Linked DNA regions of Homo sapiens: region 2 is linked to region 1. Evidence: fine-mapped expression QTL. Tissue or cell type: whole blood. Region 1 holds a variant in brackets; the other region holds the start of a gene. All regions are shown on one strand. Distances are between the middles of the regions.

Region 1 (16,393 bases):
ATGGGTGAACTCCCATTCACAATTGCTTCAAAGAGAATAAAATACCTAGGAATCCAGCTTACAAGGGATGTGAAGGACCTCTTCAAGGAGAACTACAAACCACTGCTCAAGGAAATAAAAGAGGAGACAAACAAATGGAAGAACATTCCATGCTCATGGGTAGGAAGAATCAATATCGTGAAAATGGCCATACTGCCCAAGGTAATTTACAGATTCAATGCCATCCCCATCAAGCTACCAATGACTTTCTTCACAGAATTGGAAAAAACTACTTTAAAGTTCATATGGAACCAAAAAAGAGCCCGCATCGCCAAGTCAATCCTAAGCCAAAAGAACAAAGCTGGAGGCATCACACTACCTGACTTCAAACTATACTACAAGGCTACAGTAACCAAAACAGCATGGTACTGGTACCAAAACAGAGATATAGATCAATGGAACAGAACAGAGCCCTCAGAAATAATGCCGCATATCTACAACTATCTGATCTTTGACAAACCTGAGAAAAACAAGCAATGGGGAAAGGATTCCCTATTTAATAAATGGTGCTGGGAAAACTGGCTAGCCATATGTAGAAAGCTGAAACTGGATCCCTTCCTTACACCTTATACAAAAATCAATTCAAGATGGATTAAAGATTTAAACGTTAAACCTAAAACCATAAAAACCCTAGAAGAAAACCTAGGCATTACCATTCAGGACATAGGCGTGGGCAAGGACTTCATGTCCAAAACACCAAAAGCAATGGCAACAAAAGACAAAATTGACAAATGGGATCTAATTAAACTAAAGAGCTTCTGCACAGCAAAAGAAACTACCATCAGAGTGAACAGGCAACCTACAACATGGGAGAAAATTTTTGCAACCTACTCATCTGACAAAGGGCTAATATCCAGAATCTACAATGAACTCAAACAAATTTACAAGAAAAAAACAAACAACCCCATCAAAAAGTGGGTGAAGGACATGAACAGACACTTCTCAAAAGAAGACATTTATGCAGCCAAAAAACACATGAAGAAATGCTCATCATCACTGGCCATCAGAGAAATGCAAATCAAAACCACTATGAGATATCATCTCACACCAGTTAGAATGGCAATCATTAAAAAGTCAGGAAACAACAGGTGCTGGAGAGGATGCGGAGAAATAGGAACACTTTTACACTGTTGGTGGGACTGTAAACTAGTTCAACCATTGTGGAAGTCAGTGTGGCGATTCCTCAGGGATCTAGAACTAGAAATACCATTTGACCCAGCCATCCCATTACTGGGTATATACCCAAATGAGTATAAATCATGCTGCTATAAAGACACATGCACACGTATGTTTATTGCGGCACTATTCACAATAGCAAAGACTTGGAACCAACCCAAATGTCCAACAATGATAGACTGGATTAAGAAAATGTGGCACATATACACCATGGAATACTATGCAGCCATAAAAAATGATGAGTTCATATCCTTTGTAGGGACATGGATGAAATTGGAAACCATCATTCTCAGTAAACTATCGCAAGAACAAAAAACCAAACACCGCATATTCTCACTCATAGGTGGGAATTGAACAATGAGATCACATGGACACAGGAAGGGGAATATCACACTCTGGGGACTGTGGTGGGGTCGGGGGAGGGGGGAGGGATAGCATTGGGAGATATACCTAATGCTAGATGACACATTAGTGGGTGCAGCGCACCAGCATGGCACATGTATACATATGTAACTAACCTGCACAATGTGCACATGTACCCTAAAACTTAGAGTATAATAAAAAAAAAAAAAAAAAAAAAAAAGTAGTTCTCAAATCAATATCCAAACCTTCAACCTTAAGATCCTGTATCTATTTAGATATATTTTATATACATTAGATAAAATCTAATAAATGATATATAATCTAACACATACTATATATTAGATAAAATCTAATCATTCTAGTGGAACTATTAGAACATTAGTTCTAAATACAGATTATTTTAGATTTTTTAGGGATATAATTTTTTTATATTATTTCTGAATAATGATAATTCTCTTTCTTTCTATAATTTGTTTCTTTTTCTTCACATTATGTACTGACTAGAATATCCAGTAAAATGTTTAATAGAAATAGTTAATGATGAGCATCCTGGTCTGATCCCTGATACCAGAACAAAAGCTTTCAACACTTGCCCAATAAGTATGATATTGGCTGTAGGTTTTTGGTGGATACAACTTATCAGTTTCTTTCTATTTCTACTTTGCCAAGAGTTTTTCCCCCACTTCCTTCCTGTATCATGAATAAGTGTTTTTTTTATCAAATACCCTTTCCAAGTCCATTGAGTTGATTGTGTCATTTTTCTTCTTTGTGTTGCTAATTTTGTAAGTTACATAGATTTTACCCCCTTTAAGTTAACTTTCTAGAACAAACTGTTGGGGCTCAGAAACTGATACCCCAAAATATGATGCCTTGAAATGCTGAACTGAACGAGAAGCCTCAAGGCCTCTCTGGGCTTCCCCCATCTTGTCTCTCAATCCTCTGTCTCTCCCAAAGCACAGGATGGAGTTGTTCTCTGAACTTCCCTTATCTGCCTAAAGTCTGGGCTCACCGAAGAAGAAAACAATGACCTCTGCTCCCTTCCCTGAGTTTTATAAACTGAACTTATATTGCAGGAAGAAACACTGAAGTCTGTCAACACGCCTGAACAGACTTGTCACAAACCACTATGTGCTCTGCAAGCCCAGCTAACTTTGTCCCAGGCCATTACGTTTTTCAGTCTCATTGAATTCCCCTAAAAATCATTTACTATCCCCCTAAAATCATCCACACTTTCCTATCTTCCTTTCCCCTAAGAAGAAGGGTATGTAAGCATCTGTACCCCTTTGGCCTATTGTGTGGTGGGTTAATCATTCTGGGATGGCTCCCCCTCCCTGCACATTAATATATTCATATGCCTTTTCTCCTCTTCATCTGCCTCTGTCAGTTGATTTTCAGAGTTCTCTCTTGGCCTCAACAAAACCGAACTTGGTCATGCTGTATTATCCTTTCTTAAAATATCCTCATTGGGATTTTGTATCAATTTTGTGATGGATCATAAAACTATTAGATTGACCCATATGCAATCGCTGATATTCAATCATTTTTGATTGACACCAACAGCCTTTTCAGAAGGTTTGACCTAATTGTTGTAGAGTATTCCTACTTTGGTTTTTCTCTGTAAGAGTTTGTTATAAATTAGCATTATTGCGTTCCTAAATGTCCAGAAGAATATATTGGCAAAGCTATTGGGTTTTATAGATCATATTCTTTAATCCTTATGTGGCTTTCAGATTTTCTATTTTTGTCCCAATATTGGTAAGTTATACTTTTATCTAACAAATTTAAACATTTCCTCTAAATTTTCAAAATATTGTTTTAAAGTTGTTCATCACAAATGGAGCTGGAGGCCATCATCCTTAGAAAACTAACGCAGCCAGAAAATCAAATACCACATTCTCTCACTTGTAAGTGGGACTAAATGATGAGGACACACGAACACAAAGAACGAAACAACAGACCCTGGGGCCTACTTGAGGGTGGAGGGTAGGAGGAGGGAGAGCATCAGTCAGAAAAAAAATAACTGTTGAGTATTTGGCTTGGTACCTAGGTGATGAAATAATTTGTACAACAAACCCCCATGGCACAAGTTTGCCAATATAACAAACCTGCGCATGTACCCCTGAACCTAAAATAAAAGTTAAAATAAGTAAATAAAGTTGTTCATGCTATCTTCTCATGGTGTTTTCATGTTTATGAGGTCTGTGGTATTTCTACTTTTCTATTTTTCATTGATTCTTTACATCTTTTCTCTTTTTTTCTTAATGTTGCCATGGGTTCATCAACTTATTAGTCTTCTCAAATAATCTATCTTTTATTTTGTCATTCCTCTCTATTTTATTTTCTATTATATTAAGTCTTGTGGCTACATTTATTATTTCTTCCTTACATAATTTTGGAGTTTACTTTAATGTTCTTTTTTTTTTCTCATGACAGTTATTTAAATAATTGAGCTGGGCACGGTGGCTCATGCCTGTAATCCCAGCACTTTGGGAGGCCGAGGCGGGCAGATCACAAGGTCAAGCGATCGAGACCATCCTGGCCAACATGGTGAAACCTCGTCTCTACTAAAAATACAAAAATTAGCTGGGCGTGGTGGTGCACACCTGTAGTCTCAGCTACTTGGGAGGCTGAGGCAGGAAAATCACTTGAATTCGGGAGGCAGAGGTTACAGTGAGCCGAGATCATACCACTGCTCTCCAGCCTGGCAACAGAGTGAGACTCTGTCTCAAAAATAAATCAATAAGTAAAAATAATTGAATGTCCACCTTTCTTCTTTTCAAACATATGCATATAAACTTATAGATTTCCCTCTAACAACATTTTAGCTATATCCTACAAGTTTTGAAATGTAACATTTTTGACATTTTTCAATTTAAAATATTTTAAAATATTCATTGTGATATTTTCATTGACTGGTGGGTTATTTAGAAGTTTATGTCTTAATGGCCAAACATGTAGCGATTTTCTAGTTATGTTTGTTGTTTCTAGTTTAATTGCATTTAATAGAAGAAAATTTTTTGTATGACTTAAGTTCTTTGACACGTGTCAATATTTGATTTCTGATTTCACTTATAGCAATTTTTTATAAATATTTCATGTGCATTTGAAAATAACAGATAGTCTGCTATTATTGAGCATGAGTGTTGTATATTTGACAATTAGATCAGCTTGACTCATTATTGTGTTCAGATTTTCTGTATCCCAACTGAATTTTTGTTTGCTTGTTCTACCATTGACTAGAAGAGGTGCGCAAAGTATCCTACTATAGTTGTGAACTTCTCCTCTTAGGATCTGTCAATTTTTCCCTTACATATTTTGAAGCTGTGTTATTACATATGTTCAGATATATAATTATTATAGCTCTTTGGTGAACTAGCTCATTTATCATAAGGAATTTCTCTCTATACTCACAGTAATGTTTTTTGCCTTAAAGTCTGTTTGATACTAATGTAGTTACTACTATGTTAATCTTTTGATAGATGTTTGCATGGCATGTTACATCTTTTCCCATCCTGATGTTTTCTATACTTTACTTGTAAAGCAGTAAACACAAGAGGCTGAGGTGGGAGGATTGCGTGAGCCCAGAAAGTTGAGGATGCAGTGAACCATGGTCAGGCCAGTGCACTCCAGTATGACCACAGAGCGAGACCATATCTCAAACAAAAAAAGCAGTAAAAAGGTGATATTGTTTTTATCTTAATGTGGTTTGGCAGTCTTAACCTTTAATCAAAAAATTAATCTTTTACATTCGTTATAATTGCTGTATTTTTATTATAAATATGCTACTTGATTATTTGGTTATTTTTCACCCTCTTTCAAAAGGACTTTCAAATATTTTATTTAACTCTATTCATCCCCCATCCATACCTTTATGCCATTGTTATATTTTAATTGTACATATTTGAAAATCATAAAACATTGTTTTTCACTTACTTTTTTTTTTTTTTTTTTTTACTGCTCTTCATTTCTTCCTACATCTCTGAATTTCTATCATCTATCTGGGATCATTTTTCTTTTGCCTGAAGAATACCTTTTAGCATTTCCTTTAGTTCAGATCTTCTTATGATGAATTATCTCAGTTTTTGTTTCCATAATTATTTATTTTTTTCTTCAACTTTTATTTTGTGTTCTGGGTTACATGTGCAGGATGTGCAGGTTTGTTACATAGGTAGTTTGCTGCACAGATCAACCCATCATCTAGCTGTTAAGCCCAGCATCCATTAGCTATTCTTCTTGATGCTCTCCCAACCCCCACCACACCTGACAAGCCCCAGTGTGTGTTGCTCCCCTCCATGTGTCTATGTGTTCTCATCGTTCACCTCCCACTTACAAGTGAGAACATGCAGTGTTTGATTTTCTGTTCCTGCAGTAATTTACTGAGGATAACGGCCTCCAGCCCCATCCATGTCCCTGCAAAGGACATGATCTCATTCCTTTTTATGCCTGCATAGTAGTCCATAGTTTATATATACCACATTTTCTTTATCGAGTCTATCACTGATGGGCATTTGGGTTGATTCCATGTCTTTGCTATCGTGAATAGCGCTACAATGAACATACATATGTATGTATCTTTATAATAGAATGATTTCTATTCTTTTGGGTATATAGCCAGTAAAGGGATTGCTGGGTCAAATGGTATTTCTGCTTCTAGATCTTTGAGGAATTACCACACTGTCTCCTACACTTTTGAATTAATTTACATGCCCAC[C/A]AACAGTGTAAAAGCATTCCTTTTTCTCCACAACCTTGACAGTATCTGCTGTTTCTTAACTATTTAATAATCACCACTCTGGGTGGCTGGCAAGATGGCTAAATAGGAACTGCTGTGGTCTGCGGCTCCCAGTGAGATCAACACAGAAGGTGGGTGATTTCCGCTTTTCCAACTGAAGTACACAGCTCATCTCATTAGGACTGGTTAGATAGTGGGTGCAGCCCACAGAGGGTGAGCCAAAGCAGGGTGGGGTGTTGCCTCACCCGGGAAGCACAAGGGGTTGGGGAACTCCCTCCCCTAGTCAAGGGAAGCCATAAGGGACTGTGCCATGAGGGACTGTGCTATCCAGCCCAGATACTTCGCTATTCCCATGGTCTTCCCAACCCACAGATAGGGAGATTCCCTCATGTGCCTATGCCATGAGGACCCTGGGTTTCAAGCACAAAACTGGGCAGCTATTTTGGCAGACACAGAGCTAGCTGCAGGAGATTTTTTTTCATACCCCATTGACACCTGGAAAGCCAGCAAGAGAGAACCATTCACTCCCCTGGAAAGGGGGCTGAAGCCAGGGAGCCAAATGGCCTAGCTCAGCAAATCCCACCCCCAGGAAGCCCAGGAAGCTAAGATCCACTGGCTTGAAATTCTCGCTGCCAGCACAGCAGTCTGAAGTTGACCTGGGATGCACCAGCTTGCTCGGGGGAGGGTTGTCTGCCATTACTGAGGCTTGAGTAGGCGGTTTTCACCTCACAGTGTAAAGAAAGCCACTGGGAAGTTCGAACTGGGCGGAGCCCACCTCAATGCTGCAAAGCTGCTGTAGCCAGACTGCCTCTCTTGATTCCTCCTCTCTGGGCAGGGCATCTCTAAAAGAAAGGCAGCAGCCCCAGTCAGGGGCTTATAGATAAAACTCCCATCTCCCTGGGACAGAGCACCTGGGGGAAGAAGTGGCTGTGGGCATAGCTTCAGCAGACTTAAACCTTCCTGCATGCTGGCTCTGAAGAAAGCAGCAGATCTCCCAGAATAGTGCTCGAGCTCTGCTAAGGGACAGACTGCCTCCTCAAGTGGGTCCCTGACCCCTGTGCCTCCTGACAACAAGACGCCTCCCAGCAGGGGTAGACAGACACCTCATACAGGAGAGCTCTGGCTGGCATCTGGCGAGTGCCCCTCTGGGACCAAGCTTCAGAGGAGGAACAGGCAGCAATCTTTGCTGTTCTGCAGCCTCTGCTGGTGATACCCAGGCAAAGAGGGTCTGGAGTGAACCTCCAGCAAACTCCAGCAGACCTGCAGCAAAGGGGCCTGACTGGTAGAAGGAAAACTAACAAACAGAAAGGAATAATATCAACATCAACAAAAAGGATGCCCACACTGAAACCCCATCTGAAGGTCACCAACATCAAAGACCAAAAGTAGATAAATCCACAAAGATGAGGAAAAACCAGTGCAAAAACGGCTGAAAATTCCAAAAACCAGAATGCCTCTCCACCTCTAAATGATCACAACTCCTCGCCAGCAAGGGAACAAAACTGGGTGAAGAATGAGTTTGCCAAACTGACAGAAGTGGGCTTCAAAAAGTGGATAATAACAAACTCCCCCGAGCTAAAGGAGCACATTTTAACCCAATGCAAGGAAGCTAAGAACCTTGAAAAAAGTTTAGAGGAATTGCTAACTAGAATAACCAGTCTAGAAAAGAATGTAAATGACCTGATGGAGCTGAAAAACACAGCATAAGAACTTCATGTAGCATACACAAATATAATTAGCTGAATTGATCAAGTGGAAGGAAGGATATCAGAGACTGAATATCAACTTAATGAAATAAAGCAAGAAGACCAGATTAGAGAAAAAAGAATGAAAAGGAATGAGCAAAGCCTCCAAGAAATATGGAACTATGTGAAAAGACCAAACCTACATTTGATTGATGCACCTGAAAGTGACGGAGAGAATGGAACCAAGTTGGAAAGCACTCTTCAGAATATTATCCAGGAGAACTTCCCCAACCTAGCAAGACAGGCCAACATTCAAATTCAGGAAATATGGAGACCACCACAAAGATACTCATCAAGAAGAGCAACCCCAATCTACATAATTGTCAGATTCACCAAGGTTGAAATGAAGGAAAAAATGTTAAGGGCAGCCAGAGAGAAAGGTCGGGTTACCCGTAAAGGGAAGCCCATCAGACTAACCAGACTAACCGTGCATCTCTCTGCAGAAATCCTACAAGCCACAAGAGAGTGGGGGCCAATATTCAACATTCTTAAAGGAAAGAATTTTCAACCCAGAATTTATATCGAGCCAAACTAAGCTTCATAAGTGAAGGAGAAATAAATCCTTGACAGACAAGCAAATGCTGAGAGATTTTGTCACCACCAGGCCTGCCTTAGAAGAGCTCCTAAGGAAGCACTAAATATGGAAAGGAACAACTGGTACCAGCCACTGCAAAAACATGACAAATTGTAAAGGCCATTGACACTGTGAAGAAACTGCATCAACTAACAGGCAAAATAACCAGCTAGCATCATAATGACAGGATCAAATTCACACATAACAATATTAACCTTAAGTGTAAATGGGCTAAATGCCCCAGTTAAAAGACACTGACTGGCAAATTAGATAAAGATTTAAGACCCATCAGTGTGCTGTATTCAGGAAACACATCTCACATGCAAAGACACACATAGCCTCAAAATAAAGAAATGGAGGAATATTTACCAAGCAAATGGAAAGCAAAAAAAAAAAAAAAAAAAGCAGGGGTTGCAATCCAGTCTCTGATAAAACAGACTTTAAACCAACAAGAATCAAAACAACAGCAACAACAACAAAAACAGAAGGGCATTACATAATGGTAAAGGGATCAAGGCTACAAGAAGAACTAATTATCCTAAATATATATGTACCCAATACAGGAGCATCCAGATTCATGAAGCAAGTTCTTAGAGACCTACAAAGAGACTTAGACTCCCACACAATAATAGTGGGAGACTTTAGCACCCCATTGTCAATATTAGATCAGCAAGACAGAAAATTAACAAGGATATTCAGAACTTGAACTCAGCTCTGCACCAAGTGGAGCTAATAGGCATCTACAGATTCTCCACCCAAAATCAACAGAATATACATTCTTCTCAGCACCACATCACACTTATTCTAAAATTGACCACATAACTGGAAGTAAAACATTCCTCAGTGAATGCAAAAGAACTGAAATAATAACAAACATTCTCTCAGATCACAGTCCAATCAAATTAGAACTCAGGATTAAGAAACTCACTCAAAGTCACACAAATACATGGAAACTGAACAACCTGCTCTCGAATGACTACCAGGTACATAACAAAATTGAGGCAGAAATGAATAAGTTCTCTGAAACCAATGAGAACAAAGACTCAACATACCAGAATCTCTGGTATGCAGCTAAAACAGTGTTTAGAGGGAAATTTATAGCACTAAATACCCACAAAAGAAAGCAGGAGAGATCAAAAATTGGCACCCTAATGTCACAATTGAAAGAACTAGAGAAGCAAGAGCAAACAAATTCAAAAGCTAGCAGAAGACAAGAAATAACTAAGATCAGAGCAGAACTGAAGAAGATAGAGACGCGAAAAACCTTTAAAAAAATCAGTGAACCCAGGAGCTGGTTTTTTGAAAAGATTAACAGAATAGATAGACTGCTAGCCAGACTAATAAAGAAGAAAAGAGAGAAGAATCAAATAGACACAATAAAAAATGATAAAGGGGATATCACCACTGAACCCACAGAAATACAGACTACGTCAGAGAATACTATAAACACCCTTATGCAAATAAACTAGAAAACCTAGAAGAAATGGATAAATTCCTGGACATATACATCCTCCCAAGACTAAACCAGGAAGAAGTCAAATCCCTAAATAGACCTGAAATTGAGGCAGTACTTAATAGCCTACAAACCAAAAAAAAGCCCAGGAACAGATGGATTCACAGTCAAATTCTGCCAGAGTTAGAAAGAGGAGCTGGTGGCTGGGTGCGGTGGCTCACGTCTGTAATCCCAGCACTTTGGGAGGCCGAGGCGGGCAGAACACGAGGTCAGGAGATCGAGACCATCCTGGTTAACACGGTGAAATCCCATCTCTTTTTGGTATTTTTAATACCAAAAAATTAGCCAGGCATGGTGGCGGGTGCCTGTAATCCCAGCTACTCGTGAGGCTGAGGCAGGAGAATGGTGTGAACCCAGGAGGCAGAGCTTGCAGTCAGCCGAGATTGTGCCACTACACTCCAGCATGGGGGACAGAGGACAGAGCGAGACTCTGTCTCAAAAAAAAAGAAAGAAAAAGAAAGAAAGAGGAGCTGGTACCATTCCTTCTGAAACTATTCCAAACAATAGAAAAAGAGAGACTCCTCCCTAACTCATTTTATGAGGCCAGCATCATCCCAATACCAAACCCTGGCAGAGACACACACAAAAAAGAAAATATCCCTGATGAACATTGATGCAAAAATCCTCAATAAAACACTGGCAAACCGAATCCAGCAGCACATCAAAAAGCTTATCCACTATGATCGAGTTGGCTTTTTCCCTGGGATGCAAGGCTGGTTCAACATACTCAAATCAATAAATGTAATCCATCACATAAACAGAACCAATAACAAAAACCACATGATTATCTCAATAGATGCAGAAAAGGCCTTCGATAAAATTCAACACTCCTTCATGCTAAAAACTCTCAATAAACTAGGTATTTATGGAATGTATCTCAAAACAATAATAGCTATTTATGACAAACCCACAGCCAATATCATACTGAATGGACAAAAGCTGGAAGCGTTGCCTTTGAAAACCAGCACAAGGCAAGGATGCCCTCTCTCACCACTTCTATTCAACATAGTATTGGAAGTTCTGGCCAGGGCAATCAGGCAAGACAAAGAAATAAAGTATATTCAAATAGGAAAAGAGGAAGTCAAATTATGTCTCTTTGCAGATTATATGATTGTATATTTAGAAAACCCCATCATCTCTTTAAGTTGATAAGCAACTTGAGCAAAGTCTCAGGATACAAAATCAATGTGCAAAAATCACAAGCATTCCTATACACCAATAATAGACAAACAGAGAGCCAAATCATAAGTGAAGTCCCATTCACAATTGCTACAAAGAGAACAAAATACCTAGGAATACAACTTACAAGGTATGTAAAGGACCTCTTCAAGGAGAACCACAAACCACTGCTCAAGGAAATAAGAAAGGACACAAACAAATGGAAAAACATTCCATGATCATGGGTAGGAAGAATCAATATTGTGAAAATGAGCATACTGCCCAAAGTAATTCAAAGATTCAATGCTATCCCCATCAAGCAACCATTGACTTTCTTCGCAGAATTAGAAAAAACTACTTTAAATTTCATATGGAATGAAAAAAGAGCCTGTATAGCCAAGACAATCCTAAGCAAAAAGAACAAAGCTGGAGGCATCACGCTACCTAACTTCAAACTATACTACAAGTCTACCGTAACCAAAACAGCATAGTACTGGTACCAAAGCAGATTTATAGACCAAAGGAACAGAACAGAAGCCTCAGAAATAATGCCACACATCTACAGCCATCTAATCTTTGACAAACCTGACAAAAGCAAGCAATGGGGAAAGGATTCCCTATTTAATAAATGATGTTGGGAAAGCTGGCTAACCATAGGCAGAAAACTGAAACTGGACCCCTTCCTTATGCCTTATATAAAAATTAACTCAAGATGGATTAAATACTTAGATGTAAGAACTAAAAGCATAAAAACCCTAGAAGAAAACCTAGGCAATACCATTCAGGACATAGGCATGGGCAAAGACTTCATGACTAAAACACCAAAAGCATGGTAACAAAAGCCAAAATTGAAAAATGGGATCTAATTAAACCAAAGAGCTTCTGCACAACAAAAGAAACTATCATCAGATTATACAGGCAACCTACAGATGGGAGAAAATTTTTGCAATCTATCCATCTGACAAAGGGCTAATGTCCAGAATCTGCAAGGAACTTAAACAAATTTACAAGAAAAAAACAACCCCATCAAAAAGTGGGCAAAGGATATGAACAGACACTTCTCAAAAGAAGACATTTATACAGCCTACAGATTTGTGAAAGAAAAGCTCATCATCACAGGTTATTAGAGAAATGCAAATCAAAACCACAGTGAGAAACCATCTCATGCCAGTTAGAATGGCGATCGTTAGAAACTCAGAAAACAATAGATGCTGGAGAGGATGTGGAGAAATAGGAACAATTTTACACTGTTGGTGGGACTGTACATTAGTTCAACCATTGTCGAAGACAGTGTGGCAAATCCTCAAGGATCTAGAACTAGAAATACTGTTTGACCCAGCAATCCCATTACTAGGTACATACCCAAAGATTATAAATCATTCTACTATAAAGACACATGCACATGTATGTTTATTGCAACACTATTCACAATAGCAAAGACTTGGAACCAACCCAAATGCCCATCAATGATAGACTGGATAAAGAAAATGTGGCACATATACACCATGAAATATTATGCGCCATAAAAAAGGATGAGTTCATATCCTTTGCAGGAACATGGAAGAAGCTGGAAACCATCATTTTCAGCAAACTAACACAGGAACAGAAAACCAAATACTGCATGTTTTCGCTCATAAGTGGGAGTTGAACAATAAGAACACACAGACACAGGGAGGGGAACGTCACACACTGGGGTCTGTTGGGGGTTGGGTGGCTAGGGGAGGGATAGCATTAGGAGAAATACCTAATGTAGATGACGGGTTGATGGGTGTAGCAAGCCACCATGGCACATGTATACCTATGTAACAAACTTGAACATACTGCACATGTATCCCAGAATTTAAAGTATAATTTTTTTTAAAAAGTGTCATAAATAAACTTTATTTTCCTCTTAAAAAAGTAATCACCACTCTGACTGGCATGAGATGGTATCTCATTTTGGTTTTAGGTTTTTGTGCATTTCTTTAACAATGAGTGATGTTGAGCTTTTTTTATATGTTTGTTGGCTGCATGAATGTCTTCTTTTTAGAAGTGTCTGTTCGTGTCCTTTGCCCACTTTTTAATGGGGTTGTTTTTTTCTTGTAAATTTATTTAAGTTTCTTGTAGATGCTGGATATTAGATCTTTGTCAGATGGATAGACTGCAAAATTTTTCTCCCATTCTGTAGGTTGTCTGTTCACTCTGATGATAATTTCTTTTGCTGTACAGAGCTCTTTAGTTTAATTAGATCCCATTTGTCAATTTTTGCTTTAGTTGCAATTGTTTTTGACATTTTTGGCATGAAATCTTTGCCTGTGCCTATGCCTTGAATGGTATTGCCTATTTCTTCTACGGTTTTTATAGTTTTGGGTTTTACATTTAAGTGTTTAATCCATCTTGAGTTAATATTTGTATATGGTGTAAAGTAGGGGTCCAGTTTCTGCATATGGCTGGCCAGCTCTTCCAGCACCATTTATTAAATAGGGAATCCTTTTCCCACTGCTTCTTTTTGTCAGATTTGTCAGTGATCAGGTGGGTGTAGGTGTGTGGTCTTATCTCTCAGTTCTCTATTCTGTTCCATTGGTCTATGTATCTGTTTTTGTACAAGTACCATGCTCTTTTGGTTACTGTAGCCTTATTAGTATGGTTTGAAGTTGGGTAGCATGATGCCTCCAGCTTTGTTCCTTCTGCTTAGGATTGTCTTGGCTATTCGGGCTCTTTTTGGATTCCATGTGAATTTTAAAATAGTTTTTTTCTAATTCTGTGAAGAATATCAGTGGTAATTTAATGAGAATACCATTGAATCTATAAATTTGGGCAGTATGGTCATTTTCATGATATTGATTCTTCCTATCCATGAGCATGGAATGTATTTTCATTTGTTTGTGTCCTTTCTGATTTCCCTGAGCAGTGGTTTGTAGTTCTCCTTGAAGAGGTCCTTCACTTCCCTTGTTAGCTGTATTCCTACGTATTTTATTCTCTTTGTAGGAATTGTGCATGGAAATTCATTCATTATTTGGCCCTCTGCTTGCCTATTGTTTGTGTATAGGAATCCTTATGATTTTTGCACATTGATTTTGTATCCTAAGACATTGCTGAAGTTGCTTATGAGCTTAAGAAGCTTTTGGGCTAAGACAATGGGGTTTTCTAGATATAGGATCATATAATCTTCAAACAAAGATAATTCAACTTCCTCTCTTTCTTTTTTTTTTTTTTTTTTTTTTTTTGAGACAGAGTCTCACTCTGTTACCCAGGCTTCGACTTCCTCTCTTTCTATTTGAATGCTCTTTATTGCTTTCTCTTGCCTGATTGCCCTGGCCAGAACTTCCAATACTATGTTGAATAGGATTGATGAGAGGGCATCCTTGTCTTGTGCCAGTTTTCAAGGGAAATGTTTCTAGCTTTTGCCCATTCAGTATGATATTGGCTGTCGATTTGTCATATATGGCTGTTATTATTTTGAGGTATGCTCCTTCAATACCTAGTTTATTTAGAGTTTTTAACATGAAAAGATGTTGAATTTTATCAAAGGCCTTTTCTGTGTCTATTGAGATAATCATGTGGTTTTTGTTCTGTTTATATGATGAAATACATTTATTGATTTGCATATGTTGAACCAATCTTGTATCTCAGGGAAGAAGCCACCTTGATCATGGTGGATAAGCTCTTTGATGTGCTGCTGGATTCAGTTTGCCAGTATTTTACTGAGGATTTTTGCATCGATGTTCATTGGGGATATTGGCCTGAAGTTTTGGTTTTTTGTTGTATGTCTGCTATAAGGTTGTGGTATCAAGATGATGCTGGCCTCATAAAATGAGTTAGGGAGGAGTCCTTCCTTTTCAATTGTTTGGAATAGTCTCAGTAGAAATGGTACCAGCTCTTCTTTGTACCTCTGGTAGAATTCAGCTGTGAATCTGTCTGGTCCTGGGCTTTTTTTGGTTGGTAGACAATTTATTACTGCTTCAATTTGAGAATTCTTTATTGGTCTATTCAGGGATTCAGTTTCTCCCTGGTTCAGTCTTGGGGGTGGTGTGTGTGTCCAGAAATGTATCCATTTCTTCTAGATTTTCCAGTTTATGTGCATAAAAGTGTTTATAGTATTCTCTAATGTTTGTTTGCATTTCTGTGGGATCAGTGGCGATATCCCCCTTATCATTTCTGATTGTGTCTATTTGATTCTTCTCTCTTTTCTTCTTTGTTAGTCTAGCTAGTGGTCTATTAATTTTTAAAAAAGAAAGCTCCTGGATTTGTTGAATTTTTGAAGGGTTTTTCGTGTCTCTATCTCCTTCAGTTCTGCTCTGATCTTGGTTATTTCTTGTCTTCTGCTAGCCTTGGGGTTTGTTTGCTCTTGGTTCTCTAGTTCTTTTAGTAGTAATGTTAGGTTGTTGATTTGAGATCTTTCTAGCTTTTTCACATGGGCATTTAGTGCTATAAATTACCTTCTTAACACTGCTTTAGCTGGGTCCCAGAGATCCTGGAATGTTGTCTTTTTGTTCTCACTAGTTTCAAAGAACTTCTTGATTTCTGCGTTAATTTCATTATTTACCCAAGAGCCATTTAGGAGCAGGTTGTTCAATTTCCATATAGTTGTGTGACTTTGAGTGAGCTTCTTAATCTTGAGCTCTTATTTGATTGCACTGTGGTCTGAGAAACTATTTGTTATGATTTCAGTTGTTTTGCATTTGCTGAGGAGTGTTTTACTTTCAATTGTCTGATCAATTTTAGGTAAGTGCTATGTGGTGATGAGAAGAATGTATAGTCTGTTGTTTTTGGGTGGAGAGTTCCATAGGTATCTATTAGGTCCACTTGATTCAGAATTGAGTTCAGGCCGTGAATATCTTTGTTAATTGTCCATCTTGATGATCTGTCTAATATTGTCAGTGGGGTGTTAAAGTCTCCCACTATTATTTGGTGGGAGTCTAAGTCTCTTAGTAGGTCTCTAAAAACTTGTTTTATGGATCTGGGTATTTCTGTATTGGGTGTATATGTATTTAGGATAGTTAGCTCTTCTTGTTCAATTGAACACTTTACCATTATATAATGCCCTTCTTTGTCTTCTTTGATTTTAGCTGGTTTAAAGTCTGTTTTGTCAGAAACTAGGATTGCAACCCCTCCTT
Region 2 (16,393 bases), 44 kb after region 1:
AGGTGATCCACCTGTATCGGTCTCCCAAAGTGCTGGGATTCCAGGCGTGAGCCACCGCGCCCTGCTGTGTTTTTAAAGTGAGGTGTTTTCTTATTACTCAGTTTTAAGAGTCCTTTGTGTATTTTGGATACCAGTCCTTTATCAGATATGTATTTTGCAAAGATTTTCTCCCAGCCTGTGGCTTGTCTTTTCATTGCCTTAACATTGTCTTTGCAGACCAGAAGGTTTTAACTTTAATGAAGGCCAACTTGGCAATCATTTCTTTCATAGATAATGCTTTTGCTGTTGTATCTAAAAAGCCATTGGTAGATTTCCTCCTATGTTATCTTCTAAGCATTTTATAGGTTTGTGTTTTACATTTAGGCCTATGATCTGTTTTGAGTTAATTGCTGTGTAAGATGTTAAAGTCTGTGTCTAGATTTATTTTTTGCATGTGGCGGTCCAGGTCCAGTTGTTCCAGGACCATTTGTTGAGGAGACTATCTTGTCTCCATTGACTTGTCTTAGCCACTCTGGATCAGCTATTTGTGTGGGTCTAGGCTACTGTTTGGGTTTCGATGTTTGTGCCCTCCAGACCTCATGTTGAAATTTGATCCCCAATGTTGAAGGTGGAACCTAATGGGAGGTATTTGGTTCACGGGTGTGGATCCTTCATGAAATGTCCTTCCTGGGGGTAGGTGGGACGGGGAGATGAATTTTCACTCTATTAGATGACTCTGGAGCTGGTTATTTAAAGGAACCGGGCCCTTCTCTCCTCTCCCTCTTGCTTATACTCTTGTCATGTGATCTCTGCACACACGCACACTCCCTTTCATCTTTTGCCATGAGTGGAAGCAGCCTGAAGCCCTCTCCACATGCAGATGTCCAATCTTGAACTTTCCAGCCATTAGAATTGTGAGCCAAATAAACCATTTTTTCTTTATAAATTACCCAGACTCGAGTATTCCATTATAGCAATACAAAACAAACTAAGTCTATTTCTGAGCTCTATATTCTGTTCATCTTTATACACATTTTTCATCCTTACCATGAAGTTCGTATGTATCCAGCAGGTAGTAAAATTCTTATTTCGAAAATGAGGAAACTGAGGCACAGAGTGAGCAGGGCCCCTCTCCCCAGGCCAGCAGCTGGTTAGAATTGAAACCCACATCTGCCTGGCTTTGATTCTGTGCACTTTCCTTGCCCCCAAGGTGCCTAATGGTGCTAGAAAGAGACTTAGTATGTCAACCTTAACCTTAGATGTTGCTCTCTAGGGCCTAAATTGTAGCATCTCCCTTTCTTAATGGTTGCTGGAATCTTGGGCAGCTGCTCTTTGATTGTAATCAAGGCTGCCTGTCACTCACGGTTTCTCTGAACCTGTAATGTGAGTCTTGACCTGCCTAAAAACTGGCTTTGCTTAAAACATGTAGCCCTCTTTATCAGCATCCTCTAATGTTTTGCTGAGATCTTGTGCGTAACTATTTTTTCCCTGGTTCATACTGAATCCTTTTTGCTGAGAAGTCACTTGCTCATGGGGCTTGTCTTATTGTCTTTTTGAAGACAGGACCTTGCTGAGTGGGATTGCTAAACGGAGCACAGTGCTAAAAATCTCCTGGGTTAAATGTCACCATACTCCCATCAGGGCCTGGAGCACTTGCTCTCAGAATTTACAAACATTAACTCATGTTGGCGCTCTGTGTTGCCCAAGGAGAGCATCTCTACAATTTATGAAATTCTATTTTACTGCCAGAAGTCAGCAAAGAGAAAAAGAAAGAAAGAGAGGCAGAAAGAGAAAATTCCACAGTCATATTTCAAACACCAAGGGATAGATTTTTTTCTTAAGAATATAAGATTTACAAGCTCCAAACAGGAGTGAAATAGTTTGCAGAAGCTCTCACAGCAAATGAACTGGTAGAGTTCAGATTCAAATCCTGATCTGGTGCCAAGGGCAAAGCAGGTGGTCTTTAATCCTACCAGGCTTCTCTCTGTGAGAAGGGGACATGCTTACTGTGGCCTCAGCAGACAGAGTAGGCTGCGTGGGATCTGGGAGATCTTCTGTGAATGGAAGGCATCATTTCACCACTGTGCAATTGAACTAAGATACATTGTTTTATTTATTTTTTATTGATTTTTATTATTATTTTTTTGAGACGGAGTCTCGCTCTGTCACCAGGCTGGGGCGCAGTGGTGCGATCTTGGCTCACTGCAACCGCCGCCTCCTGGGTTCAAGTGATTCTCCTGCCTCAGCCTCCCGAGTAGTTGGGACTACAGGCGTGCGCTACCACGCCCAGATCATTTTTGTATTTTCAGTAGAGACGGGGTTTCACCATGTTGGCCAGGATGGTGTCAATCTGCTGACCTCATGATCTGCCTGCCTTGCCCTCCCAAAGTGCTGGATTACAGGCGTGAGCCACCGTGACAGGCCAGATTTGTTGCTTTAAAACAAAGCATATATGGTGGCTTACTATGATGTCAAGCACTGTTCAAAGCACATTACAAAGCTGGGCAGGATGGTGCTCGCCTATATTTCCAGCTACTGGGGAAGCTAAAGTGAGGCGATCGCTTGAGCCTAGGAGTTCAAGGCTGCAGTGAGCTATGATGTTGCCACTGCACTCCAACTTGGTGACAGAGTGAGACCCACTCTCTAAAACAAAGACAAAAACACATTTTACAACTGCTAAGCCATCTGCATGTGTTCATTAAAACTTTTTCTGGGGACTTTTTCTGGCTCATCCCTGTAGTCCCGATGCTAGGGGAGGTTGAGGCAAAATGATCGCTAGACAGCTGGTATTTGAGGCCAGCCTATGCAACATATCAAAAACCCGTGTCTATATGTAGAAAAAATATTAACTAGGCGTGATGACACAAGCCTGTAGTTCCATCTGCTTGGGAGGCTGAGGCAGGAGGATGGCTTGAGCCTGGGAATTTGAAGTTCCAGTGAGCTATGATTGTACCGCTGCATTCCAGCCTGGGTGACAGAGTGAGACCCCTGTCTCTAAAAAACAAACAAATGACAACAGCAACAACAACAGAACACTTTTTCTGAAGCTAGCACCATGCAGTTATGTACTTTATAAATTGCTAGTCTAATTCCAAGGGAATAGTTCAGCAGCTGATATTTGAGAAGGACCTGTAGAAAGGATTCAAAGACCACGGACACCGTCCACTGTTTTTCTGTTTTCCTATAAGATAGAAGAAGGATGGCATTATTAATTTATGCCCTGTTTACCTATCCCAAGTCCCAGATCACTGGATCTTTAAAGATTATGATTCTCGCTTGGCTTTTGGTACAAAAGGAGACAAGGAGGGAGCTTAAAAGGTGAGCACGGTGTGATTCAGGACTGAAGCTTCTGCCACTTCCTGGGGGGTAACTGCAAAAGTGAGCCGTTCTGACTAGCCGTTTGTGCATTTGCCACTGCCAAGGGGGCACAGGTAGATTCAAGCTTTGGGGCTCTTCTGACAACTGGCAAGGATAAGGTATTAGCAAGGGCAAAGGAATAGTAATAAAATAATCCAATAACAAAGACATGAAGATTTATAATAATTTTTAGGCCGGTGCAGTGTTTCAGGACTGTAATCCTAGGGCGCTTTGGGAGGCCCAGGCGGGAGGATCGCTTGAGGCCAGGATTTCGAGGTTAAGGTGAACTGCGCTCCAGCCTGGGCAATAGAGTAACACCCTGTCTCTAAAATGAAAAGAAAACAGTTTAAACCTTTTAAGTGCATACCAAATCTTTTATTTTGGAGAAGGAAAACTGGTCTCGAGTTCCGTGTGAGCTCCCTGGGGCCCGCCGGGAGGGGGTTGGCACGGCCGGACCTGCAGCACTAGTTCTGGCCAGGGCGCTGTGGGATCTGCAGGGGACCACAGGATGCTGTGGCGCGGTGCGCTCAGATTGGCGGAGAAACGGCCACACGCCTACGGAGCTACTGAGAAGGCGAGCGGAGGCGCAGCCCGCCCGCCCGCCGCGGGAACCCCAGGTTGGGGCGCTGGGCGCGCGAAGACTCAGCCGCCCCGCCCACCAAGGGCGCGTCGGTCCCCGGCCGCAGCCTCTGGGCTGGCAGCCGCCGCCGCGCCGCGCTCCCATTGGTGCCCGGCGGTGACGCGGCCGAGCGGGCCGGGGCTGCCTGGTCCGGGGGCGGGCGTGGGGCGCGGGGCGCGGAGCGCGAGGGGCGGGGGCCGGGCGCACTGCTGATGAAACCTGGCGCCGGAACCCGCCAGCCCTCGGCGCCCATTCAGTCCGCGCAGGCAGGTGTGAGCAGCGGGTCAACTACCTGGCAGGCGCGCACGCGGCCGCGGGCTCCCGCTAACCGCAGCCTCCACTCCTCTCCCCGCGCGCCGCGCCCCCGCCCCGCCCCGCCCCGCCCGGTCTCGCCGGCCGAGCGTCCGTTGGTCCTTGAGCGCGTCCGACAGTCTGTCTGTTCGCGATCCTGCCGGAGCCCCGCCGCCGCCGGCTTGGTGAGTGCCCGGCCCCGCCAACGCAGGGGGCAGCTCCTTGGGCCCGGGTCATCACGGAGGGGGCCCTGGCGCCGCGTGGGGCCGCGGCAGGGCGGCGCGGGAGTGGCGAGGGCCCCCGCGCCGGGAACGCTGCCATCCTCTGGGAAGGGCCAGGACCAGGGCCGGGCGGGCCCCGGAGTGGGCGAGCGGGGCTGGTGCCCATGCGACTGTCGCCTCCACGGAGTCCATTTTGGCTCCCTGAAACCGCGGCGTGGTGCATGATGCAACACCGAGTGAGTAAGCGTGGGCGATCTGGCGATGCCCGCTCCGCGCGCCTGTCCGGGGACCCGCGCGCCGCTACGCACGGGGTGGTCGGGGTGCGTAGGCGGGCGGCGGGCACGGGGGCCAGACTGGGAGGCACACGGAGCCCGCCGGCGGCGAGGAGACCTTCCCTTACATGGCGCGGTGCAGAGCACCCCGCCCCGCCACGAGGTCCGGGGATGTGTCATCAGCCGTGGGTGGGGACTCTGCCCGGCCGCCCGGAGGGTGGTCCCGCGGCAGGTGGCCGGCCCAGGGACTCTGCTGCCATCCCCGCCCGGTGGCCGCCCTGACCTAGGGCGCCTGGCTCTCCGCTTGTCCCTAGAACCCGGGACGCGCCGCCTGCACCTCTCGTCTGGGTCCCCAAGATTGCTTTGAGGAAGTCTCCCCTAGGTGGGCTTCCTTGTGACCCAGTGTGGCCTGGAAAGGCCGGGTTCCTCAAGCCCTCCACATGGTTTGGAATGAGAGGAAGTTCTTCCGCCTTTAGCAAGACACCGTATTCTCAGGGTGTTCCTTTCTGCGTAGTAGAAAACTTCCCAGGCATGGGCAGGTCAGAGTCATTCTAAAACCTGCGCGTACACAGAGCGGCAGCTGCACTGTAGTACTACAACAGCCTGCTGGTTCAGCTCCTGACCCTTTCCAGGGGATGGGGGAACCAGACAGCAGTTGTGTTTGACTTGTGTGACTAGGATAGTCAGACATGTGCCTTCAGGAAAAAAATAAATAAATAACCTACATTTCCCAATACTCACGTCATCACCGCCATGCCCTCATGTGTTGGGTTTTAGTCCAGACATAGTTACCAGATGGTTGAGATTTCAATCCCAGGTGTATCTCCCTAAAGAATGTGCCTTTTATCTTACTTACATTCGACTAGTAGAATTGTGTATGTCGGCCTCTGGCCGAATGCCCTAATTGTATTTAATTCGAATTATAATTTATCTGGGATTTTTCCTAACATTTCTTGCCCTTTATGTTTGGTTCAGATAATAGGAAACCATGATACATTTATTCCTCTGGTATTTTTAGTTGATCTCAGTGGAAATTACCATGATTTTTATATGAACACACCCTCCTGTTATTAAAACAAAAGGTCTTATTTAAGTCACACGAACAGAATAGAAACTTAGGGGAAAGGTCAACAATAGATTAAAATGGTTTTAAAAATAGGTTTAGCATATTACGATCATGTTTAATTATTATAAAGGTAAAATTCAAAGGATGTCAAAGGAGTTTTGAGTAAAGAGGAAAGGGCTTAGTAAGTAGATCAGAAATGTACTCCCTTGTCTGGGTCTGGATCCTAGAGCCACGTGCTCCTGTACATATGATTACTTGCTTTAGGTGAAAAAAAAAAAGAAAGGCTTGAAAGACAAGACTGTTGACTTCAGGGAGTTACAATTTTCTATTTGGTAGAAGAACTCATTCTTTGATGGAATTAAATACGTGTTGATTGATTATTCTGGTCTGTAGTTTATTTTAACCAAAGTCCATACAAATAGATAATTATGTTGGAGGGCTCAGAATTATGTCCAATTAAATTAATCCTTTCTCATTATCAACCATGTATTTGGAGGGATTGCTATTAATCCTAGGGACAAATTTGAAATGTGAATAAGTGCATCCTTGTTATGGAGAAAAATATTGTTTCCCTCTAACCTTGGAGATACTTGAGTCTCGGAGTTATCTCTTCCAGAGGCATCTTCAGAGATGCCTATCACTCCACCTGCCTCTTGGTCCTCACTCCAAGCAAGACCTTCCGATAGGATGTGGTGTTTTTCTGTATAGTTGGCCCCTGCAGACCTGGATAGATTTTAAAGGCAGATCCAATAGGATTGGCCGGTGGATTCATGGAAGGACGAGAAAGGTCAAATATGACTCCAAGCACATCGGAGTTGCTGTATTAATGAGATGGGAAGGCTGAGCAAAGAACGTGTTGGATGGAAGAGGGACTTTTTGAAAGTCACAACTGACCTTTTTAGAACTCTTATCCCCAGGGTCAGGGCTGGAAGATGTATCTTCTTGGGGCCCCTCTCAGGTGCCTGCCTGTGTGTTGCAGCCACCCGTCCAGGCTGCTGGCCTCCTTCCCCTTCACCTAGCTTTACTGGCTCCTCTCGCCAAATCTGGGGGGTCTCTTCAGCCTCTGTCTCCTTGCTGCCCATGGCCTCCCTTTGCTCCCCTGCCGCCTTCTAGTGGGCCGCCTGGTGGTGGACTTGTCCTGTGGGATGGAGACCCTCCATACATGGGGTTCAAAGGTCCTGGGGTATTCCTGGATCTTCAGGACATCTGCCTACCCTCAGGTTTCCCAGGCCTCGGGTGGGGAGGCATCAGATCCCTGGCCAACCTGCTATCCACCCCAGGGTTTAGACCTCTCTTCCCGTGAGGGAACAGAGTAGTAGCTTCATTTGTGGCAGATTATCTGCCTTGTGATAAACTTTAGTGGCCTCCCTTTCTGTTTTGCCATAATCTGCCTCCTCCCCCACTCCCATACCCATCTACAAAGCAGCCTTGAAAATAACCACCCCTGTGGTTCAGTGTGGGTCATGATCTGTCAATCCAGGCTTAGTACATTTCCAAATGGAATTACCAGAAGGATGGGCATCAAACTGGGAAAATGATTTGGTGGCTTGCTAGCCGTGTTCCTTTTTCTCCCAAGGCATTCGTTCAGATGTGCAGTGTTGGCAGACCCAGGGGATGCCATTTACCTGGCCCACTGGTCGAGATTTGGTCATCCCAGGAACTTGGGCTTCAGAAAAGATGTTTCTGGGCTTTGGACCAGATTCTGGCTGGTCTGTGGTTTGCCCCTCCTGCCACACCCAGTGGCTTTCATTGGGCTTTTTTCCTCTAGTTATTGTCAGGAACAGTGGGGAATGGCAGGTATTGCATTTGGTGAACACACTGGATAACTGGAATCAGAGCCGTGTGACTGAGGGAAGAGGCCTTCACAGCTTCAATGCAGAATGGGATGATTATCTGCCCTGAAACGAAGGATGCTTCTTTGAGGGGAGTTGGGACCAATACTGGGAACAGCACCGCTCCTGGCTTCTCTGGCTTTGCTTCTCTCTGAAGTAATTTAGACTTCGTGAACCTTACATACTGGCTCCATCTGTATATTGGGAGAGCCTGTCCCTCTCAGCCTCACAGTAGTGAAGTTAGGAAGCATGGAGTCCACAGTGTTCTTTGAAAGAATCAAGGCACCAAGTCCATGCATTTACATTTCTCTCTTGAGATCAGTCCTTTTGTTAGCAGCCTGCAATTCTGACCACGGCAACCAAAAATTTCTGACCGTGGCAACCAAAAATCAAGCGCGAGGAAACCTGGGGGTTTATTTGGAGGTGGGAGAGGATGTCCCTTCTTCTGGTAGGACTATGTCTGGCTACATTGTCTTTCCATTTTTTTCTGATTGTCCCCTTGCCCCCCTCCCTTTTCTGGGGGCACAGAGGGCATGGCAATTTTGTTTCCTAGCTTTCCATATTCCTACTGCAGTGCTTTCTTCAGAATACTTGTTCAGATCGGATTCTTGGCTGTGAGGGCAACCAGCTGCTTTCCTGTTTCTTTAAAAGTGGATCCCACACTGCCGTGTCCTGCACAGTGAGTTCTGCATTGTAGAAACCATCTAGCAGTGGTGACTCAGGGAGTGGCCTCTGCTCGGTATGGGGCCTCTGCAACATGAGGTTATGGGGCTTCTACGCTGTGGGGTCAAAGGAGACATCATGATCCCTACTGGCAGAAAGAGCAGAGCCCCAGAGTGGGTTCCACTTACGGGGTCAGTGTCTTTTCTGAGATATTCCTCAGAACCACATTTAAATTCTTTTTCATATTGTTTGCATAATAATTGCCTTCTAGTGCCTACTTTATAGGACTGAGAGGATTTAAATGAGATAATCCATGTTATGGATTTAACACAGCCTCTGGCACAAGTCTAAATGTTGCATGTAAGTGTTAACTATTATACTGGAAAGAAGGCTCAGTTCCTTGATTTAGGTGTGGGAGAAAAATATATATATATTTTGAGATAGGGTCACACTCTGTCACCCAGGCTGGAGTGCAGTGGTGCAGTCACAGCTTGTATTAGCCTCCACCTCCTGGGATCAAGCGATCCTCCCACCTCAGCCTCTGAGGTACCTGGAACCATAGGTGTGTACCACCACACCCGGCTAATTTTTATTTTTTATTTTTTGGTAGAGAAGGGATCTCATTATGTTGCCCAGGCTGGTCTCAAACTCCTGGCCTCAAGTGATCCACCTGCCTCGCCTCCCTAAAGTGCTAGGTTTATGGTCGTGAGCCACTTAGCCTAGCCCTGAGAAAAATAATTTTTACAACAACTTAATTTCGCTCTCTCATTTTACCAAGGCATTAAAATGTTGTGCTCTTTCCTTGGGTGGGTTTCTAAATTAGAAGGGGCAGACATAGTCCCAGGGTGCTGGAGGAGGGATGCGGGCCTCTGAGGCATCTGCTGACAGGTTCACCATCCCATCTGGTCCCAGGTCTGAGGGAAGGAACAATAGTCTCTGGGCTGTTTTGGCTCTGACTGCCTGGATGGACTTGAAGCCATCTCTCTTTGGAATCCTGATGTCTCCCTGAGCATGGGGTGCAGGTTTGCTTAGGACTCAGACCCATGCACCTTGCGCTCAGTGACTTCTAGGACTCCTGGGAAACAGAGCTCTCAGCCCCTTTCTTAGTGTTTGCTGTGTGTGGGTATGTGTATGTTTATGTGTATGTGTATGTGTATGTGTATATGTATGTGTGTGTGTTTGGTGGGGGGCAGGACGGGAGTGACTGCCCTGGCTACAGTCATCCCAAACATGTTGTTCAAATTACTCCGAAGCCCTTGGGTTTTAGAAAAAGCAAAGCTGAAAAGCTGAAACTCTGGGCCGTGTTTCCCACCTCACTCATCCCGTGCTTGGGTCTGTAGGATAGGATGTCTCCATACAGCACAGGGGTGGTGGGCGACACCCACCTGGGGGCAGCAGTGAGAAGGCAGGGGCTCATCCTCCCCACAAAGTGGCTGGAGTTGATCTGTTATGGACGTGTTCGAAGTGTCCTTCTCTGCATCTTGTCTGCTTACTGAGTGCCATTAGCCAAAGTCTGTTAGGCCAAGTAGGAAGGAAGGGAGGGGCCCTGGGGCTAGGTAAGATCAATCATTGCAAGCACTTATTTAGTGCTCACCATGTACTCTGCGCTTTATCTATGTTTCATTTGAATCTTCCTAACCACCCAGTGGGATCGGCCCTTCTGGTGTGACTGATGGGGAGAGGGGAAGGCAGGTGGCCCACGGGCACACAGGTAGGCAGTCAGTGGCAGAGTGAAGATTGGAACCCAGATGTCTGCCTGTACCTGGACTCCAGCCTGTCTCGGGATAGGCCTGGCCTGGCCTGCCCTGTGTACACTGAGTGGGAGGCAGACAGATCTGAAGCCCATCTGCCTGCGTCCCTCTGTTTCTGGCTGAGTCCAGGTGGTGCTGGCACCGGTCACCCGCCCCAACGCTGGAGGGCACCCTGCCTCCCCTCTCTTTGCCCTGATTTCCCTCTGCTGTCTCTGAAAGTGGGTCTTCCCCCTCCCAAGTCCAGGCACCTGGCACAGCTGGAGCCCTGGGGTCCTTGGGGCAGCTGCGCTGGGACGTGGCCAGTGTCAGGAGCCGGTGTGTGTGACGGAGGCTGGGCTGCATTCTTTCTGGGTCAGTAGTTTGGCATTTACATCACCAGCCTTTGGCTGGATGCAATGCCTCCTGCCCAGACCACAATGGAGCCTTGTTTGATTTATCACCATCCAGCCACGCCCACACTCCACCTCCATCTCCACCTGGGGAGACCCCTTTGCAGGGGGTCTTGTGGAAATCAGAGACTGTTCGTAGGGGAAAGTCAGCTTCCTTTTCTGTGTTCCATCCTTCTTAAGGCCAGTGGCCGCTGTCATCCTGCCCTTGGCTTGGCTTTGCTGATTTCTACAATATCTTGCGGAGGTGCCCCCTTTCCTTAGAGGATGCATCTTTAACACTCTCAGAGAGGCTGGGGCAGGAGCTGTCCACACCAGGGCCTGCAGCAAGGGCCCGTCTTCCCCAAAGTGACTTGGGAGAGTCTTCCTGGCCCGCAGCTTTTCCACAGTGTCAGGGACACCTCCTGCCCTCCCTTGGGATGAGGCCTGGTCTAGGAGCTGGGGGCGTTAGGGTGCAGTTTCTGGGACCCAGTGAAGGCCCCTGGGAAAGACTGGCAGTTAGAGTTAGGAGAACTCTTCCCTCATCCCTTTTGCCCTTCTCCTTTTCCCCTTTTCTTTTTCAGCAGTTTTTGGATAACATTTCAAACTTAAAGAAAAGTTGCAGAGGCCAGGCATGGTGGCTCACGCCTGTAATCCCAGCACTTTGGGAGGCTGAGGCAAACAGATCACTTGAGGCCAGGAGTTTGAGACCAGCCCTGGCCAACATGGTGAAACTCATGTCTACGAAAAATACAAAAGTTAGCCTGGTGTTGGTGGCGCATGCCTATAGTTGCAGCTACTCGGGAGGCTGAGACACAGGAATCACTTGAACCCGGGAGGCGGAGGTTGCAGGGAGCCGAGATCACACCACTGCACTCCAGCCTGGGTAACAGAGTGAGATACTGTCTCAAAAAAAAAAAAAGAAAGAAAAGAAAAGAAAATTTGCAGGAGTGCAAGGAACTCCTGGGTACCGTCTCTCAGATGCACAGGTGGGTTATGTTTTGCCTCCTTCTATTCTCTCTCCACCCCACACAAACTCACATGCACACAGACACATACATTTTTTTCTGAACCATTTGAGAGTCAGCTGAAGACGTCATGCCATTTTATTTGCCCTCTATACTTCAGTGTATATTTCCTAAGAACAAGGCTCTTCTCTCACATAACCATGGTACAATAGCAAAGTCAGGAAATTTAACATTAATACAACCCTGCGATCTAGGCCACAGTCCATATTTGACTTGCAGTCGTCCACATAATGTCCTTTATAGCTAAGTATTTTTGGGGAAGGAGTTTTGCAGTGTGGGGGTTCTTTCAAAAGAGGTGTGATTTTCTACCTCATAAGCCTTTTTAAGAAAAAGTGTTTCTAAAAGTTAGAATGTTTGTTGTGGAAAATTTGGAAACTACAGAAAATTAAAAGAAGGAGAAAATAAAACCCATTCATAATTCCAGCTCAGAGGCTGAGTGATCGACCAGAAAGGTGGTGGAAAGACTTTCTCAGCTCCTTCAGCTCTGGTGACCTGGCCACACAGACTCGTGATCCCTCCACCACCCACACACTAGTCAGGAGCCCCGCAGCCAAGTCCTGGGGCTGTGGGAGGAGCCGGCCCCTGTCTGGAGCTGACGGTCTTTCATGCTCCTGCCCACCCCTTGGGCAGGTGCCCACCGAGCAGGCAGACTTAACCAGCCTTGGTGGTGCCTTTGTGGTGCATATCCTCCAGGTGGGGAAGGGTGGAGATCGTTAATAAATATCCAGAACTTGTTTGAGACTTGAAAAGAAATGTTGCAGGCCCACTCTTGTCTGGTCTATACCCCTTGCTTCCTGGACTTGGCAGAGGTTAAGGATGGGGCCTGGAGCGTGATTGAGGGAAACAGCACTGGCCCCATATCAGTGAGCTCTTGGGTGCTTCATGTGGTTGTTAGACTTGCCTTTTAATGAGCCTCTTGGCCCCTACCAGTGGGCTACGGAAGAAATAAAATGTGAAATTTTACCATGTGAAGTTTGCTGTTTGCCAATGACTGTGCTTCTCAAAAGTTCCTAGGGAAAGGTTTTAAAACTGGTGCAGGTAGTGAAGTTTGGATCTCGCTTCCCTGCTTTGTCCGCTTAGGTGGTCCATTCGCCATAACAGCTGGAACTGAGAGTGGCTCTCCCCTTTCCTGGCCCAGAACGGGTCTTTGCTAAGCGAGTCTGGTTTCTGGAAGGATTTTGTTCTTAGAAGCTACTACGTCATTGTCCTCAGCTCCCCATCATTTGTACCTCAGTTTCCCTGAGCTGTAAGTCTATGTTATGTGTGAAAATGGGCCTCTGAAGGTCATGATCAAAAGCCTTGAGTATTTTTCCATGTGTTTGTTTTTTCTACTCCGGCCCCAGACCCTCTCCTTGAAGGAGCTGGCCTTGAGAGTGACTTCGGTGGGCAGCCGCCCAGACTCCACACACCCTGCTGAGTCCACGTAACGCCCAACCTGGACGGGCCAGAGCTGAAGGGCTACTCTTCAAAGAAACCCTTTGAAGTGCAAACATTTCCTTTCCTGAAAAGAAGGGAAATTGAAATGAAAACGTATTGTTCTGTGCAGACAATGTTCTCTTCGATCAAAGAGGGAGTGGGGCTTATAAAGGGAGATGCACAAATTAGAGCTTGATGTGGCCAGTGGTGTGGATGTGAATATTCATCCCTGTGGAGGAAAATAGTGGGGTCTCTGAGATTTGTAAGATTGTATTTTCCTTTTTTTTCTTCTTTTTCCTTAAGGCTCTGAATCTAGGTCTAACGTTCTATTTAATGATGTCTCTCCTTTGTGTTTTTATCTTGTGGTAAGCATTTGGGAGTGTCTTTCAGTAAATCATGATACCATTTCCATGTTAGAATACTATGTAGCCAGTAAGAATGGCGTTTTCAAAGAACATTTGATTTTGTGGGAGAAACTTTAATGTTAAAAGTGAAACCATCTGGGTGCAATTTCCCATGTTCCGTGTTAGCTTAATGAGATATATGTATTTGCACAGAAAGAAAAGACTGGAAAAATTGGACTTTGTTTTTCTCACTGCAGTGTTTGTGGCACCTAAAATAGTGCTCAAGAAATATTTATTGAATGACTATTCTTATAATTAGTAAAACTGTATTTAAAGGAGGAATGTCTTTGAGCTAATGTTTTGGCAGGTGGATGGGACAATATATTATTTTAAGTTTCTGTTGTAATTTTGCCCTAGCAGCTCAGTTCTGGTAGATTTTGTTCTTTGGCACACATACATACCCCATTTTGCACTTTGGTACAAATTATACTGTGAATGGGTGACTTTGACATTTATATTTTTGGAAGAATCCAGTTCTACTGAAATCAGAGTATCAGATGTTGTCTTTTTCCTAATGTTCCCAGATGGGGTAGAATTACAGCTTCTTCTTACTTACTCTGTAACTAAGGAACCTTTGGGCCAGTTTGTCCTGTCCTGTGGTTGAGAATTTTTGCCTGGTTTGCCCAGGGTTTCTCATCCTTGAGCATCCAAGGCTACCAAGATACACTGTTCATATGTCGTCCTGGTTTCTAATGGATAGTTATCTAAAAATGCAGCTTCCCATTCTTACCTGCACTGTAGGTTAGCTTGGAAGATGTCCATCCCTGGTCTCAGTGGTCTTGTTCAGGGAGGGTGACTGTCACAGCTGTCCTTTCCTCTCTGGTGAGATTGTTTCATTCCTCCTTCAGGCACTTGGGATTCAGAGCCCTGTTGGCTGCCTCTTCTGTACTGTCAGCTTAGCACAGGATTCTGGAAGCCCGGTGCTGGGAAAGCCTTTCTCTGGGCTGTTTGGGATGGGACTACTGGTTACCCGCACACACTGGTACTCACTGGGTGTTCCCGAGGATGGCGGCTTTTAAACTTCTTTGACCGCAGTCTACAATAAGAACTAAATTTACATTGTAATCAAGTACACACACAGAGGCACACATATTGATATATAGATAAAATGAAAATTTTTATGAAACAGTACTCATTTTTACTATCTGTGATACGCTGAGATAATTTTTATTCTTTTCTATTTCATTACAAGAAAAATTCCTCGTGGCAACTTGGAGTTTGCAAAACACACTAGGTTTAGACATATGAGCCACACCTCACCTGCAACTCCACCACATTGTCCTGAATTTCATGTTCACTGCTGGCACTAGGGGATGGGAGTCAATTCTCCATCCAGACCAGTTAGGGCAAAGAAAGTTGAAGAGTCAAGGTTTCTTTTTGTGGTGATTTAGGAGTTTCTGACTGAAGGGGACATTATTCTCTGTGATGATGCCCAAGAAAGTGAGTAGGTTTTCAGGGCAGACCTGTGTGAATTCCCCAGTGTGGTTTGCTTTTGCATACTGGGGTATCTGTCCTTCGTTAACCTGACACAGTGGTGTCCCAAAGGTGGCCTGGTCAGGCTGTATGTGAGTTTTTAGAAATGGGCCATACATTTGTTAATTTCAGTGCTCTGATTTTCTTTGAGTTTATTTTATTCAGCGTGATGCGACGAAGAACCTGTCTGAAAGAGTTAAGGATTTTGGGGAAGAAGAGTGAGAAAAGATACTCATAGAAATGTTATTTTTTGACTAAATCTTATGGGTTAATATCGAACGGTATTGAAACTATATTAACAATAGCAGCCATACCATTAAATAGTTCTTCTTGAAAAGGTTGGATGGACTTTTGCTTAAGAAATGCTTGAATGTTTTTTCTTTTTTTTTCTTAGAAAATAAATGTCTTTAAGTCTGTGTATATAATTCACAAAACAATTGTAAATCAAGGGAATTGACTCTGCCTAACAAAGGTACAATGACATAACAGAACTAGAACAAGATAAATGGCCTCATTTATTGAAACAATGTGCAAATGTCTGTCCTTGTTCTTGGGAAGTTTCTTTTATTTACTATGCTTCTCAATAAAAATAAATTTGTTGTGAGAACTCAGAGTGCTTACTTTACAGTACTCTTAAAAATTCATATAGAAGTTACAAATATTGGCCAGGTGTGGTGGCTCATACCTGTAATCCCAGCACTTTGGGAGGCCGAGGCAGGCAGATCACCTGAGGTCAGGAGTTTGAGACCAGCCTGGCCAACATGGTGAAACCCCGTCTCTACTAAAAATACAAAAAATTAGCTGGGCATGGTGGCGCAGTACAGCTCCCGAGTAGCTGTAGTCCTAGCAGAGGGCTGGGTCCCAGCTACTAGGGAGATTGAGGCAGGAGAATCACTTAAGCCCAGGAGGTGGAGGTTGCAGTGAGACGAGATCGTGCCATTGCACTCCAGCCTGGGCAACAGAGTGAGACTCCGTCTCAAAAAAAAAAAAGAAAAAAAAAGTTACAAATATTACCATCACCATTGTTGGTATTTGAGAAGAAACCTCATGAACTTGATCTGATGCTGTTATATATGTTAACGTTTGAAATAAATGATGACTCTGTTATTGCAAGTGTACCACACTTCCCCCACAAATCTATAACCTCACAGTTTCAGCAGCTAGGTTTTTTGTTTGTTTGTTTGTTTTTTTAACTTTTGTTGGAAGACATTTCTTTTTTCAGATTGCTTTCTTTCCAGAGGGCAATCTTGGGAGAAATTAAGCAAGAGCACTCATTAGTTCTGTGAGTAATTTTATTGAACTGGGAAGAATGTCTGTCTTGCTGGTCTCAGAGTTTGATACAATTAGAATTTTAGAAAATTATCAGATCTAATTTGTGCTGGGATTCAGGCCTAATTACTGAAAGACTCTGTGGTCTGATGAGTCAAGGTGAGGGCATTGCCGTCTCATGTTTCTTGGGTGATTTGGAGTAGGGCAGTGGCCAGGGGAGGTGAAAGCTCTCTGCACAAATCCAAGTCACTTTCCTGCGGCTCCTGGTTGCCCATGAGTGGTCCTGTGTGGAGCATCTGCAAGGGAGGTCTTGCTGAGTCACCCTGCATAGAGTTTGAGTTGCTGGAAGAGTTGAAGTCTACTAAGAGCTGCTGGCCTTGACCCACA

The links. PIP is the estimated chance that this variant, and not a neighbour inherited with it, causes the effect.
Region 2: SLC7A1 starts here. The variant in region 1 is fine-mapped to the expression of SLC7A1 in whole blood (TOPMed, PIP above 0.99).

The regions. Positions count from the first base shown.
Region 1 is chr13:29,627,101-29,643,493 of GRCh38, reverse strand. No RefSeq gene overlaps it. Among named protein-coding and RNA genes, the nearest start is that of SLC7A1, 40 kb to the right of the region's middle. The variant C/A (reference allele first, on the strand shown) is at 6,290.
Region 2 is chr13:29,583,454-29,599,846 of GRCh38, reverse strand. It overlaps SLC7A1 (solute carrier family 7 member 1), which reads left to right and starts at 4,159. Exons shown (of 13, transcript NM_003045.5): 1 at 4,159-4,431. RefSeq lists silencers at 3,793-5,032, 5,201-5,495 and enhancers at 5,143-5,272, 6,362-6,861, 6,862-7,363, 9,524-10,520.